2 separate regions of the Homo sapiens genome follow, and region 2 is linked to region 1. Evidence: fine-mapped expression QTL. Tissue or cell type: whole blood. Region 1 holds a variant in brackets; the other region holds the start of a gene. All regions are shown on one strand. Distances are from middle to middle.

What was found. PIP is the estimated chance that this variant, and not a neighbour inherited with it, causes the effect.
Region 2: it holds the start of CREB3L2, and the variant in region 1 is fine-mapped to the expression of CREB3L2 in whole blood (TOPMed, PIP 0.98).

Annotation. Positions count from the first base shown.
Region 1 is chr7:137,910,214-137,918,342 of GRCh38, forward strand. It overlaps CREB3L2 (cAMP responsive element binding protein 3 like 2), which reads right to left. Exons shown (of 12, transcript NM_194071.4): 3 at 5,624-5,799; 4 at 2,778-2,865. Among named protein-coding and RNA genes, the nearest start is that of CREB3L2-AS1, 39 kb to the right of the region's middle. RefSeq lists an enhancer at 7,039-7,088. The variant T/C (reference allele first, on the strand shown) is at 4,416.
Region 2 is chr7:137,997,702-138,005,830 of GRCh38, forward strand. CREB3L2 (cAMP responsive element binding protein 3 like 2) reads right to left here and starts at 4,385. Exons shown (of 12, transcript NM_194071.4): 1 at 3,903-4,385. The coding sequence starts at 4,004. LOC124901752 (a long non-coding RNA gene) reads left to right here and starts at 4,606. Exons shown (of 3, transcript XR_007060551.1): 1 at 4,606-4,689; 2 at 6,855-7,130. RefSeq lists enhancers at 2,449-2,788, 3,410-4,008, 3,925-4,064, 4,009-4,606, 4,155-4,244 and 2 more.

The DNA.
Region 1 (8,129 bases):
GGCCCTGGCATGCTTTTTTTCTTCTCTCTCTCATTGCGATTCCCTGTCTCTCTCCCACCCTTTCTTTCTCTTTCTGCCACATACAGCTTTTCTCTAGATGTTTCCTCTTTCCCTTTTTCTCTGCCAGTCTTGCCAAAGAGGTCCCTGGGCTTTTTAGTCTCTGTGGGCACTCTTAAAGCTAAAGAATATGCTAAAATAATCCTAATCGCGCTATTCCCACTACTGCCACAGGTGCAGGCAGCCCAGGAAGGGAAAATATGCAGGTGCTTGGCTAAGAGTGAGGAGTCCTAAGCGTGTTAATCAAGGTTTCTCGAATGCCATGAATATTATGGCACTTCATGGTTTAAAAACAAAAAAACAAACAAACAAAAAAACGGGAAGCAGACGAACCTAATAGGGGCTTTGTGCTGTTACATTCCCAAGAACTAGCCAGGAGTACCTAGAGCCACCCTGTCCCTTTCACTTGGTAGGGGCCAAATTATTCTAATACCGTTCTCCCGTCCAAGCAGAGGGCACCCCACAAAAGACAGAAAGAGAATTTGAAGCAAGTGAAGCAAGTAAAATCTTGTCTTTCCTATCTATTAAGAGCTACAGAGCTGGCCAGAGGCACCTCAGGATCAGATTTCTAAATATCATTTGAAATGCTGCTTTTGGGTTACTGCAAGGTCTGGGGACAACAAGCTACTGTGCCTAGAAACTGATGCAGTCAAGGATATTGAATTTCCTTATCTCAGTTTATCCAGGATAATGAGGAAGGGCTGTCCTTAACTTCATTCTTGAAACATTTCTCCTCCAATAACCCTGGATTCAGAAGCCACTATGGGATTCATTGTTATGGTGATGACACTTCTGAACCACATCACAGCATAAATTAAAAGAGTAAGATGCATTTGATAGTAATAACTGGTGTTATACAAACGAAAGCAATTACTTTGAAGCAGTACATAAAGCTGAAAGGCACTACTGTCTGTCACTCAGTGCAAAGACATAGTGTCTCAATATGGATTCTAAGTATTAACTTTTACTAAGTAAATAAGTATTATTTACTAAGTATTATTTCACTAAGTATTATTAACTTTTAAAATTTAATCCTTTCTTTATTGATAATAAAGGCAAATAAAGGGCCAGCCCTGATTACATTGTTACAAACCAAATCCTGAGTTAGTTTCTAATGGAATGAAGACAGACGATATTTTCATGAGAAGTGCTCATATGTAAACATCCTCACATTTATATACCGTAGCAAATATACCTTTTCGGTGACAACTGTATAAGCCAATTTCTTATTTGTTGACCACAGTAGTGAACTGTACTTTGAAATTTGTACTGAAAGTATGAATGGGACCGGGTGAGGTGGCACATGCCTTTAATCCTAACACTTTGGGAGGCCAAGATGGGAGGATCACTTGAGCTCAGGAGTTTCAGACCAGCCTGGGCAACATGGTGAAACCCTATCTCTACAAAAAATACAAAATTTAGCTGGGCGTGGTGGTGCATGTCTGCAGTCCCCGCTACTTGGGAGGCTGAGGTGGGAGAATCGCTTGAACCCATGAGGTTGAGGTTGCCATGAGCCATGATGGCACTACTACACTCCAGCCTGAGCAACAGAGTAAGACCCTGTTTCACACACAAAAAATAAATAAATAAAAAGTATGAATGAAAAGGGAAGTGATGGCATGAGTGAAGGCACAGAAGTGAGAAGAGCAGGATGTATGCCGGAGAATCTGCATACGCAAGGCAGAGAGAGCTTCATTAGACCTCATGAGGCTCAGGGGTCTGCATCCAGGATTCCTAACTATGGGCTTCATAGGAGAACAAAGAGGGAGAAACTCAGAAAGAAACTGACATAGAGAAAGATAAATATAGAAATATAACAACCTTGGCCAGGCGTGGTGGCTTATGCCTGTAATCCCAGGACTTCAGGAGGCCGAAGCAGGCGGATTGCCTAAGGCTGAGAGTTCAAGACCAGCCTGACCAATGTGGCAAAACCTCGTCTCTACTAAAAATACCAAAATTAGCTGGGTGTGGTGGTGCACGCCTGTAATTGCAGCTTCTCAGGAGGCTGAGGCACAAGAATCGCTTGAACCTGGGAGGCAGAGGTTGCAGTGAGCCGAGATGGTGCCATTGCACTCCAGCCTGGTAACAGAGTGAGACTCTGTCTCAAAAAAAAAAAAAAAAAAGTATGATCACCTCAAGGATGTGTTAATTCTAAATGGATGGATGTCAAGAAGCCCAAAAAGATGCACAATTGTGAACCATGAACATGACCAAATAGAGAGGGGGCTCCTTGCAATAGTTGTCATTCAAAGTCAATGTTTACAAACAATGAATTGGCCACATAATTAATTGTGAATTTACTTCACAAAGAGTTGAAACTAGAGTTGTTTGAAATAAGCAAGGTGCTTTTGTAGATGGTTGTTGATTTGTGGGGCTACGTAGGGTTCACGCCTGGATGAATAAGGGCTGCAGTTCTCTTGTTCGATAGTGTTTGTAGTAGCAGTCCATAAAAGTTTTGAAAAATATCACCCTGGTTAGAAGTAAAAGTATGGTAACACTTAGCTGAAATTTAATCACGTGCATATATGGGAAAATAATAGTTAGCTTGCAAAATTTTTATTTGGAAGCAAAATTTTTATTTTTTAAGAACAGAGCTATTTCATAAAGCCAGCTACAACATCTGTGGTACAAACTCATCCCAGCTCTCTCGCCATATTCCCTCTCTGTAGACCCAGAGACCATATCCATAACCCAAAGGGACACAGGGAGGGCAGACAGACCTTCTTTAGGAGAGAAGTTTAGAAACTGATCCACTTCATGAGGCTCCAGCTTAATTTTAGGAATAATGGTCTGGCACGAGGAATCAACCTGGAGGAAGAATTTCAAACACAATTTTTAAAAACCAATCACAGCCTTGAAGACACATGCAGGAGAGCTATTTGTCACCTGTGTCTTCCTCTCGGGACAGCCCTGCCTATCCTGGAGAATAGCTGAGTGTAGGCAACTTCCCTGACAGGGAGTCATTTTAGTTCTTAACCTTTTTCTCATTGCCAAACTTGGCATTACAGCTGACAGGACCTTCAGAACTTCCTTGAGACCACCCTGGGTAACATAGTGAGACAACGTCTCCCCAAAAAAATACAAAAATTAGCCAGTTGTGATGGCGTGCACCTGCAGTCCCAGCTACTTGGGAGGCTGAGGCAGGAGAATCACTTGAACCCAGGAATTTGAGGCTGCAGCGAGCTGTGATCATACCATTGCACTCCAGCCTAGGTAACAGAGTGAGACCCTATCTCAAAAAAAAAAAAAAAGAAAAAAGAAAAAAAAAGAAAAAGAAAAACACTCAGAACTCTAAAGTTGAAAGCCAAATGCTCAAGCCCAAAACTATATCAATATTCTTTTCTATGTTTTTATAGTACTATAAAGGCATTTTATTACAAAATATTCTGGTACTTTTTTTTTTGTGGCATCATTCTGCTAACTTTATTCTTTATACATAGTTTGGGTAAAGTAAGAACCAAACACTGCTTCCACTCCCCCTATCCTCACTCCACTTTGGGGGCTTTAAAAAGCAACTTATAGTTGATACTGGTGAGGATTCCCAAGACTACAGAATTTAGTTGTAGAGCGTAACTGTGCATTTGATCACTGAAAGAAAATAAGAGACCTTCTAAGAGGTGGTGACCTTAGCAGAATAAGGAGGGGCCAGGGGGTCTCTTATCCCAGTTCAGCCTCACACCAGCCTGGGAGTTTTCCCTGCCTGCAACGTAAAGCAGCCTGTAAATTACATATAGCCACAATGCACTTAAATCGAGTCAATCACCATGGAAAATGGGAACTAAATTTTAAAGAGTCAAAGGCCTCCACCAGCTTGCCCTGGGGTAGGGACTGTGCACCAAGCCACATCCTTTCTCTTATATATAACTTTATTAATATTAATAATTAATAATGTTATAATACAATTAATATAATTATTAATAATTAATATTAATGATGTTATTATTAAGGCTTCCTAATGACTGATGGTATCTAATCACGAAAATCCTGGTAGGGAAAGGAGAAAAGTTATCTGGCCCATACACAGGAGCAAGGCCATGCCTCTGAGCTTTGCTAGTTACATACTTTACAATAATTCAACTAGGCCGGGCATGTGGCTCACGCCTGTAATCCCAACACTTTGGGACGCTGAGGTGGGCGGGTCACTTGAGGTCAGGAGTTCGAGACCAGCGTGGCCAACATGGTAAAACCCCATCTCTACTAAAAATACAAAAATTAGCCAGGCGTGGTGGCTGGTGCCTGTAATCCCAGCTACCTGGGAGGCTGAGGCACAAGAATCACTGAACCCGGGAGGCGGAGGTTGCAGTGGGCTGACATCATGCCACTGCACTCCAGCTTGGGTGACAGAATGAGACTTCTGT[T/C]TCAAAAAAAAAAGTAATAAATAAAGTAACTAAAATTCTGTGGAGCAAGGAGACTAATATAGACCAGAGAGCCCAGCCTAATAAAGAGACTCAGGTAGCTACTGAGAAAGGAATCCTAGCACACTTGCAGAGGCCTCTGTCTACAACCCTTCATCATCTACACAGATGGACTGACAAGGGAGTAAGCAGTGACACTTTAATGAGTCTACTGATTCTGTGTTACCATATTCTGAACAGGTAGACACTACATCTTTTTTTCTTTCTTTCTTTTTTTTTATTTCTTGAGACAGAGTCTTGCTCTGTTGCCCAAGCTGGAGTGCAGTGCCTCGATCTCGGCTCACTGCAGCTTCCGCCTCCCAAAGTGCTGGGATTATAGGCATGAGCCACCGTGCCCGGCTGCAGATAGACATTCTATCTTGCTCACAAGAAATCTGACTTAAGGAATGTTAATGAAGTTGTTGTTTATAACCTGAAGCTTTGAACTTAAGGGAAGCTAAGACAGGCTTCCAACACTTGCAAGAAGATGTACAAATACAATGCTGGTCCATGGCCAGACACTGGAAATATCCAGAAAGAAGGTAGAGTAGAATTAAATTCTACTTGCGGTAGGCATGGAATCTAGTAAGGAAAAAATCCTGATTTCTTATGCTTTCCACGGGTAACACAATAATAGGTGTTATTATTACTATTACTATTATTATAATGTTATTAATATTGTTAATATTATTCATATTATTATATGAATCAATACGTGGGACATTCCTGACTTGAGTAAGGACAACTCAGCATCTCACTAGGAAAGTAAAATATTACACAGGAGCTCACATTCCCAGTAGCCATGCACTGTAAGCCATGGATTACATCACCACTTCAATCACTCCCTTTCCACTGCTTAAAAATCAGTGCCATAGAGAAATTTTTTTTACCATAGATATTTTCTGTGTTTTTTATTTTGTAACAGTAATCAAAAAGAGAATGAAATCAGCTTAGCTACTAATTTTTTCCGAACAATGGCTTTAAAGGAAGTTGGCACCAAATCAACATACCCTTATTAAATGTATACATATGTATATACACACATATGAAGTTGCATGTCCTTAAATGTACACAGCCACTAACTCCAAAAAGATTAAACACCTTATTGGAGAATGAGGATCTATCTGTATCTTTTAATCCAACCTGTTTAAACAGACGAAAATTGAGCATACCCCAGTGTTCATTTCCAGAGGAGGTTCCTCCTTTTCCAACGGGGTGGAGATGGCTGTGATGGTCAGAGTGACAGACGGAACGAGTCCTGGGGGTGGTTCGTCTGTAACTGGCTCTGTCTTGATGGATGTTGAAGGGAAGTCTGTAGACAGGTACCATTTCTCACTTTCCACCTCATCTGCAGGAAAAAAGACAAGCACACATGTGAACTTGTTCAGGGCATCAGGCATAAGCAAAACAAGCGACCACTAGTCTTTCTCCCCAAAAAAGCTCAGTGAAGGATGATTGAAAGTAGAATAAAAGAAAATGAAATATGTGAGGGAAAAGATTGATAGATATGAACAGCAAAGAAAGAATCTATACTTGTATTCGCTTGCATGTGAGTATGCCTAAAGAAACTCTGGAAGGAATCCATAGAAAAGAAAGAAACTTGGCTTCCTGAGAAAGGCAGGAAGAAACCTGGGTTGATGGGGAATAGAATAGGAGGGAGGATTTTGAATATGTAATGAGCTACTCTTTTTGGTTGTCAAATCATGTAAATGTATTATCTATTCAAAAATAGATAAATAAGCACATTTAAAAACATGAAAGAAAGAAGCAGCCGGGCACAGTGGCTCACGCAAGTAATCCCAGCACTTTGGGATGCCAAGGCAAGAGAATTGCTTGAGCCCATGAGTTCAACACCAACCTGGGCTACAATGCAAGACTCTGTCTCTACAAAAAAAAATTTTTAACTAGCTAGGTGCAGTGGTGAGCATCTGTGGTCCCAGCTACTTGGGAGGCTGAGGCAGGAGGATTGCTTAAACCAGGAAGTCGAGGCTTCAGTGAGCTGTGATCACATCATTGTACTCCAGAGCCTGGGCAACAGAGTGAGACCCTGTCAAGAAAGAAAGAGAGAGAAAGGGAAGGGAGGGGGAGGGGGAGCGAGAGAAAGCAAGAGTGAGAGTGAGAGTGAGAGCGAGAGCGAGAGCGAGTGACAGCGAGAGCGACAGAGAGAGAGAGAGAAGCAAGCAAATGGTTGGTAACCAACGGGAGAAGATGAGAGAACATGGTGAGTAGGTCTCTCTCTCCTTCTCTCCAAAGGAAAGTTATTTGGTTTTTTGATATTTTTTCTTCTCACTCCATTTTTTTGTTTGTTTTTGTCCTCTTCTGTTTTCACTGTGATCCCACCTAGCCTTAAACCTAACTTAGACTTTCAGAGACTCTGCTTAGCCCTTTGGGAGACTTTGGTTTGTAATAACCATCTGCCCTTTGCTGAAATGGACAAAATACTCTTCCTGAGAAAACAGCTGCATCTTGGTGAGTCTGGGTCTTGTCTTTCCTGATTATCACCAGGCCTGGAGATAGCTAACAACCGAGAGACAAGACGGAACAGACAGAGTGCCTCTGCCACTTAATGCACATTCTTCTCAGAGTCTAAAAGAATAAGAATTTGTATTTCTTAACAAGTTACTTTGGAGCTAGCGCTCAGCACTGCCTGGAAAAGCCGGGAGGAGGGAAGGAAAGGAAACGACCAGAGGGTTGGAAACAGCCACAGAACAAGACAAAGCAAGCCAAAGGCAACGTTCCTTAGCTGATACCAGTTTTACTAAAATGAGGCTAAAATAAAGCAAAGACACGCTCCTTTGCTTTCTCAAAATGCTTACACACATACACCACATTTCACATACTTAGTGACCCATGACTGTCAGGAGAGCAAAGTCGTTCACATTATAAATTTATTTTACATTCAAGAATGTGACTCCAGTTTTCTTATGAAAAGGTACAATCATTTAGAACCGCTAAGAAGAAGGGAAGGGTAGACACAGAAACTAAGAACTAAAATCTACGATTATTAAAATTATGTTTCATAAGTGACTTCTTTAAAGCACAAAAATGTTAGGTTCATATTTGAGGAATGATTTCCCCCTTAAATCCAGTTTATAATTGATGAATTATCCCAGCCTCAATTTATTTCCCAAGGTGAAATAAAGACAGGATGGGCAGGTGGTGGAAGATGTTTTGCTTTTAGAGTGGGGCTGCTGAGTGCTATGGTGTGACGGGGATTTCCATCCTTCATGGGGTGTGCGCCACATCCTGGTGGAAGGGGAGGGCGGGGGAACAAAGGGCTCTCTGATGGCGGCCAGAGGAGGGAGACCACTCTGTACTGGACTCAGACCGTGCCCCAGCTCAGCCCAGAGATGGAGCAACTGGACCACGAGCCAAAAGATTCCGTTGACTCTCCCCAAAGGAGCTTAGGAGCTAGAAGACAATGTCCGCTGCAAAGAACACCCGCTTAGGACAGTTAGGGAAGGGCTGGAGAGACAGAGACCGCATAGATCCCATTTTTTCCATTCGGCAATGACATGGTGATGCTTTTGCTTTTTGTTTTGTTTTGAGACATTCTTGCTCTGTCACCCAGGCTGGAGTGCAGTGGCACCATCTCGGCTCGCTGCAAACTCCGCCTCCCGGATTCAAGCGATTCTCCTGCCTCAGCCTCCTGAGTAGCTGGAATTACAGGTACACGCC
Region 2 (8,129 bases), 87 kb after region 1:
TGGGTGTCAGAACAAGACCCATCTCAAAAATAAAATAAAATAAAATAAAATAAAATAGAAATTACAAAAGCACAGACAATTCCCAGAAAGTAATTTTCAGAGAATTTTATAGGAATACAATACAAATGGCAGAAATGTCCAACATACAGGCAGGTCTGGGGAAAGAGGCAAGGTTTCTTCTCACGGTGGTACCGAACCCCAAGAGATATTCTCCTGATTTCTAGATTTGCCATCTTTTCTGAACCAATTTTAGCCTGTATTCCATCTTGAAGCAACAGCTTTCCTAAAATCAGTACTCACTGAATTAAAATAACATTTCATCATCTGTATGGAAACAATTTTTTAAGCTTCAAGAGGAAGCCCAGAGCTTTAGCAATTCAGGATCTAATGATCAGTCCATCTTTGCCCTATCCATATGCTTCATTATTTTGTAGACTCTGAACCTGTCTGCCTTTGTCCTTGTAGACCAAGATGTCTTCATAACTAACCAAATGAAAAAAAACATTGCTCCTAACGGTTAACAGAAGGCTCCTGAGAAACATCATAATCTCAGCCTTGGGTAACTTGAACATTCTAAATTGTTTAAATCAAGTATGTGACAGGTTTGCTAAAACAGAGCATTAGCAATCATGCATGTAGTAACTAAATCCCTAGTAAGAGCAACAAAAGTGATCTCACTAGGAAGGTTTGGTGGCTGCCACTGTCAGCCTCATTTAAACATTAGCTGCTTTCAGGCTCAGCAGTTCCTATATTCCAATCACTCTCTCCCAACCTCTTATTCAGTTCCTTCTCTTTAAGTCAGGATTCTTCACTCAGACAGCCTGATAGGCAAGTACTTGCAGGCAGGCAAACATGGGTTTGAATCCTGGTTCTATCACTAAATAGCTGTGGGAACTGAGCCAAGTGGCTTAAACTCACGAAGCCTCATTTTTCTTATATGTAAAATAAAAGTAATAAAAATGGCTCATTTCACTGGGTCATTACAAGGGTTAAATGGCATAATATTTGTAAAGCACTAGACACAATGTCTTTCAGCAGGACCAGCTACGTAATTTGTGAAACCCAGTGCAAAATGAAAATGTAAGGTCCCCAGTTCAAAAAGAATTAAGATTTTCAAGATGGTGACAGCACAGCATCAAACCAAGTGTGGACCCCGTGGCACTGCATGGGTGGCAGGCCATGTGGTCAGCCCTGCCTTTCGGATGATAAACACTCAATAGATGGTAGCTGTCATCATCTCTTACCACCCTCACAACTCGTATTTGAACCTCACCCTCCCCTCAGGCTCTCTTCAACTTGGAAAGTTTTATGAAATCATTCCAAAAACAGGCACTGGTGTCTCAGAAGCACCCAGAGTTTATAAGACAAATAACTCACCAAAATGAGTAATCTGAAATACATGATATTAACACAGTCTCATGAAAATGCACACCTACCTTAGGCCTTTGCTCTAGTTCTTCATCCTGCTGAGCTAACACTCTTACCTCCTTCCAATTTTTGTTCAGATCCATTTTCTATGGGAAGCTTGCTCTGATCACTCAGTTCAATCCCATAGTTTGCTCTTCTTCCACCTTGTATTCTCTATCCCCCTCACCTTGTTCTACTTATACGTTTTCCATAACACTTATTTCATCCAACATAATCACTTCTTTATAATGTTTATTGTTTATGTTCCCCTACACACACACACACACACACACACACACACACACACACACGAATATAAGCTTCTAGAAGTCAGGGATTTTGTCTGCTTCTGTTCACTCATGTTTCCAAGTGCTTTATATATTCCACAAATATTAATCGAAAGAACAAATATCTCTCTGACTGAATGAATAATCAGGCCATCCTTTTTCTACATAAAGATTCAGCTAGAGTAACAAACAGCTCTGCCCCTGGATATCTAACAGAGTTCAGGAAACAGATGGGAAAATTATCTCCCCACCTCTCCCAAACGTCCCTTAGTTTGAGAGAAATATAACCCAATCATTTGTGCTGCTAAACCAATACCTCTTTCAACAGTAATTCATATGCACAGTTTGTTGCACTGACTTGCAGCAATGATGAGCAGCATTTTACAGGAATGAGCTGTTCACAACAGACATGTACCTAAGTGGAGGACATAATAAGCATTTTTTAAAAATAGAAATAAAAGAAAAATAATCACACATTCCTGCTTTATCACAATGACAGAAAAACTGGGCTGTTAATATCAAAGCAAATGTAAGGCCTCTACTCCCTGAAAGTGTGCATAAGGTGTTAGTTAGAGCCAGTCCAAGCAGTTCTTCCCAGAGTGAATGCCACAGTCACGGGTAGCATCTCGCACCTTTCCCTGTGAACTCACAAATGCAAGCTACAGGGCCAAAGAACAGCAAGGTAGATGCCTGTGCGTAATTCATCCCACCAGCTGAAAGACAACCCCCTAGCTGTGGCATTGCAGCTGCTGGATGAGACACTGTCACAGCGAAAGAATACTTCAAGAACAAAAGAGAAGGGCTGCCCCTCTGCATATGGATAAAATGTAGCCTGTCAGTAGAAACTCCTGGAGCACCCATTCATCAAAAGATATTTGAGGAACAACATACTCCAAGTTCTTTACTGAGGACAGGAAGCACATCTGGTACCCCAACCTCCGTGCTGCCCACATAGTGTCCCCATGACAAGCTCAGCAAGCAAAGCCCAGAAGATCACACTGAACATCTGGCTTTTGCCCCAGCATGAACTACCACTCCCTCTCAGCCCTGCACTCTGCATTTTTTTTAAACAAGCCACTCTCAGCCACCACAAATACTTCGGTGGGAATCAGCAGGGAGGCCCTCATTCCTTGTCTCAAAATAACGTCAGCCAGAGTCAAAGGCCAAAGAGGTGGAGCCTGCAGGCCATTTTGCGAAAGTTTCAAATATCTTGGTACTGACCCCATTAAAAAAGCGTGAAGGGGAAGCAGCCAAGCCTCCAGTGGTTTTCTCATTAGTGTCCCCCCTCACCCCAGCCCCACCCCCATTACAAACGTCTGCATGGATAAGAATCAAACAAAGAGATCTTGCATAAAGTCCTATGATCAGTGCTGGCTATTGAAAACAAAATTTCATTTTGCAAACTTAATACCAAAAACTTGACATTAAAAACTTTAAAAGAAATGTGCGTGCTCTGGGACAGCTTAATCCCCCAAGAGATCTCTGAGGCATTAGTATAAGACTGAACAAGCAACTGGTGAGCTGTCCCACCTTCCCCAGAGCCTTTCTTAAATATGCAACTGTCTCAGATTTTCCATACTCCTCTGCTGGTTTTTCCTCCGAAGAGGGAGGAAGGAGACTTCTTGGTCGTACAGTTTAAGAAAGCAAATAAAGCCGCCTTTCTCCCTAACGTAGAGGAGCCCTTTCAACACACACACACACACACACACACACACACACACACACACACACGTGTACTTTTTAAAATATAAATATGAAAGAAGAGGAAGGGAGGGAGAGAGGGAGAGAGAATACGAGACAGATGAAAAGGAAATGCTACTTAATCTTGTCCAGTTTTTGAAAACCTCAAAAAAAAATCAATAGCAAACTAGGCGGAGGCATGTTATTCTCAAAACACACACTCCCTCTCCCGCATTACAGTACTGTTAACAACAGCAAATGATATTACAGATGGAAAAAGCCTCAGGGAAAAAAGCATGAATTGTTAAAGGAATACAAAGTGGCATTACTCTCATGAGAAATGTAAAGGGGCCAGCTGCCCGCCTTCATCTGCTCAGACATTAAAGTACACCTCGCCCAGGACCTCTTGATTCTGACCATGCCCTGCCCCAAACCCTGCCTTCCCGGGTCCCAGGACTCCAGCTGCTCCTCGCGTGACAACACTTGCCCGCTTTGAAAGCCCTCCTGCCCCGCCCGCCGGGTCCTCACCGTGTGGTACATGAGGGCCTCGCCGTCCCCGGGCTCTGACAGCTCGCTCAGCTTGCGGTCCCACTGCAGCACGCCCTGCTCCCCGCTCTCCAGCACCTCCATGGCGGTGCGGGCCGCGCTGGGCCGAGGATGCTAAGCGCAGGAGGGGACGCGCAGAGCTGCCTCGGACCGGCAAGGTTCCTCTCTCTCCGCGTGTGCTTGCGTGTGTGCGCGCGCGTGTCTGTAGTTTTGCACTTGGAAAGCAAACGTCTGCTCCTCTGCCGGAGAGAGGATGGCCAAGCGCTCCCGTCCGGTGTCCTCGGAGATCCGAGAATCCCCAGGGACACGAGCCGGACCAAAGGCTGCCGGGGCTAAAGCGGGATGTGCATCCAAAATGAAGGCAGAAGACCCGCTCTCATCCCAGGAAAATCCCTTAGCCGCAAGCCCACTTGCCGCTACGGCTCCAGACACAAACTTTGAGGGACCCCAGGGCTCCTCGGCTCTGCTCCAGGACCCAGCTGCGGCCCCACCTCCCTCCAAGGCTTGACCAATTGGATATCCGCCTTGCCTAGCAGACCCAATCAGAAGTCTCATTCTCGGCTTTGTCCCGCCCCCAAAGGCAGAGGCCGCGGGAAGTCTCCGCCCACGCCTTGGAATGTAGCCGGGGAGTGTCTGTGACGTCACCGAGGAACTCCTCCTGCTTGAGCGCGGCCCGCTGTCTGCTGTCGCCTACAGCTGACCAATAGAGGGCTTGGGTCCGGAAGTGATGGACTGGAGGCTTGACTAATGTGAAAGGGGCGTCTGAAAGGTACAGCCAATGAAATAGCGACAAGAATACATTTTGTAAAAGAGGGAGGGTGAGTTCAGTCCTCTTGCTGAGAATCCTCAGAAATTTACCAGCGCGCCGACAGGGGGCGCGAGAGTTGTTGCGCGGGGGGCTTAAACATTTTCGAGTACTTTAGTTCATTTGAATCTCTCGGAATTTTTTTAATGGATTACATATTATACAAAAATACAAATATTCCTCATGCACATACATTTATATTAGTGCAGCTCTAGGAAATTGTCATTGTTCTTCACCTTTTTCGCCCATTTTCTGTTGGGTTCTTCTATTTTTTATGGACTTCACTTATTGTATGTTTTTCTTTCATCTGCTTGATAAGAGTCAATGGCATGCTTTTCCAGGTCCTACAGAAGTGAGCCCAGTCCTTGAATTCATAGAGCTTTTATCTCAGAGGAGTCAGGCAATAAACAAAGAAATAAACATTTAAATTCAGAAAGTGGAAATTGCTATAAAGAAAAATAAAAGCAGGAAAACAGGATGCGTCAAGATCGATGCTATTTTACGTGCTGATCAGGGAAGTTCTTCCTAAAGGAAATGAGATTTCGGGGGAAGCTGGTATTCACGTGATTGCTGGGGAGGCCAGTGTGGCTGCAGCAGAGGTGCTTGGCAGGGAGGGGTGGGAAAGGCCAGAAAGGTGAGCCAGGGCCAGAGCACCAGGCCTGCCTCCTAGAATAGGGAAGAGATGGCCTGTTCTAAAGGAATTCCCCCGAACACTGTGATTCTTCTTCCTCCTTTTTAATTCCAAAAATATAGTTTACCTATCTTAAATATAAAAGCAGGTCTTTGCCAGTTAGCTCTAGAAGTTTCTTACAATGGCACATTCAGGTATTAGCTATTGTGTTGTTTCCTTGGCAAGTATTTTTTGGCGGGTGGAGACAAATGTCTTTGAACTCTATGTTGTCTTTAAAGCAGCAGTTTATCATATAAACTATTGCATTTGTCTGGTCCTATCTTCTGGGGTCTTTTGAGATTTTTTTTTTTTTTTTTTTTTTTTTGAGACAGTCTCACTCAGTTACCCAGGCTAGAGTGCAGTGGCACGATCTCAGTTCACTGCAGCCTCCACCTCCTGGGCTCAAACAGTTCTCCTGCCTCAGCCTCCTGTGTAGCTTGGACCACAGATGTGCACCACCACACCCGGCTAATTTTTAAATTTTTTGTAGAGGCAAGATCTCACTTTGTTGCCTGGGCTGGCCTCAAACTCCTGGGCTCAAGCAATCCTCTCTCCTGAGTCTCTCAAAGTGCTGAGATTTAAGGCATGAGCCACCACGCCCAGCTTTTGAGATTATTTTAATGCTTAAATAGAAGCTCTAGTTTATGGGCACACACCTTCCTTATATAATAGTTTTCTCATTTTTCTCTTAGGTTCTTGGTTTTTCTTTTCCAGCCTGGTATCCCCTTCATCACATTCTTTCCATAGATTGCTCTTTCCATTTTTAAAGACCTTTCTTATTTTTTTAATCTGTCACTCAATGTACAATGGGATTACATCCACATAAACCCATCATAAATTGAAAATATCGTAAGTCAAAAATGCATCTACTATACCTAACCTATCAAACATTATAGCTTAGCCTAGCCTACCCTAAGATGTGCTCAGAACACTTATATTAGCCTACAGTTGGACCAAATCATCTGGCAACACAGTACTAGTTATTTACTGTCATGATTGTGTGGCTGACTGGGAGCTATGGCTCCCTTGCACCAGGAGAGAATACCATATTGCGTATTGCTAGCCCGGGAAAAGATCAAAATTCAAAACTCAAAGTACAGCTTCTACTGAATGCATATCTCTTTCACACCATCATAAAGTCAGGAAATCATAAGTCATAAGTCAGGAACCATCTGTACCTCTTCCTTAATGTAGGAATACAAACATTTATCCGTGAAGCATTTCTGCTTTTGACAAAGTCTAATCCTGCTTATACCCCATGTAGTAGCCAGTTTCCAAGATGGCATCTAGTGATCCCACTTCCTGGTGCTCACGCTCTTGTGTAATTCCCTCCTCTTGAGTCTGGGCTAGACCTGAGGACTTTCTTCTAACAGAATATGCCAAAAACGAGAAGATGTCAAAAAGATTATGGCTCCTGACTTGCTTGTTTCCTCTTCCTCTCTTGCTTGCCTGCTTTAAGAGAAGCCAGCTGCCATGCCATGAACTGCAATGTGAAAAGGCCAATGTAGCAAGGATATGTCCAGCCAACAGCCAGTGAGGATCTGAGGCCCTCAGACCAGCAGCCCATGAGCAACTGAATTTTGCTAATAACCATGTAAGTGAACACAGAAGTGGATCCTTCCCCAGGCGAGCCTTCATAAGTCCACAGACCCAGTCAAGACTTTGACTGCAGCCTTGTGAGAGCCCCTAAGCCAGAGGACCCAGCTAAGCCACGTTCAACTTCCTGACCTGTCAGGTAATAAATGTATGTTGTTTTAAGCCACTAGGTTTTTCCTTTGTAAAATATGTATTATGATCATTGGCACCCTAAATGGTTTGGTTAAACTTACCTGTACTCTAATAATAGCATCACAATCCCTCGTGGTGGGTTTCTCCAGCCTCCTTTGTTTCACGTATACTTCTCTGTTAAATGTACACACAACTTCTTACCAGCCTGTCTTCCTGTTTTGCATTTTGAAAATGAAATTCTTTCCCTTTTCATCTCCTTAGAACTTAGCAATGTAGTTGACTCTCCTTCCAGCTTCGCTGGCATCCTTGTTCTGCTGTCTGTTATTAATAGATTCATGGCACTTGCACGACTGGAAGTCATACTCTCCCAAAATGAAAATCAGATGCATTAGCCAACAAGACATTTCTCTGATTTTTTTCTGATATTATTTGCTATCTTTCCATGTGTCAGTCTATTTACAAATTTGTTCTATGTGCTTTCTATACCTTCATCTCAATTATTAAGATAAATTGTATCTAGAATTGGGCACTTGACAGATCCCCCACATCATGAAAATAGAATCCGCCTTCCAAGTTCTCATGGTCCCATTCATCGGCATGCTTTTTATTTGACTACTCGATAAAAATTAATCTATTGAATTTTCCTTTTTCACGTCCTGTACTTTTTCAGTTTATCCACAGGGATAACTGTTAAGTACCTGCTTAATTCCAGACACCATTGTGTATACATTTTTCCAGGTTTAAAACTCTGTTAAAAAAAGACATGGGGCCGGGCATGGTGTCTCATTCCTGTAATCCCAGCACTTTGGGAGGCCGAGTTGGGAGGACTGTTTGAAGCCAGGAGTTTGAGACCAGCCTGGACAATATAGCAAGCTATCTCTACAAAAAATTTTAAAACTTAGCTGGACGTGGTAGCACACGCTTGTAGTCCCAGTTATTTGGGAGGCTGAAGCAGGAGGATGGCTTGAGCCGAGGAGGTCAAAGTTGCAGCAAGCTATAATTACCC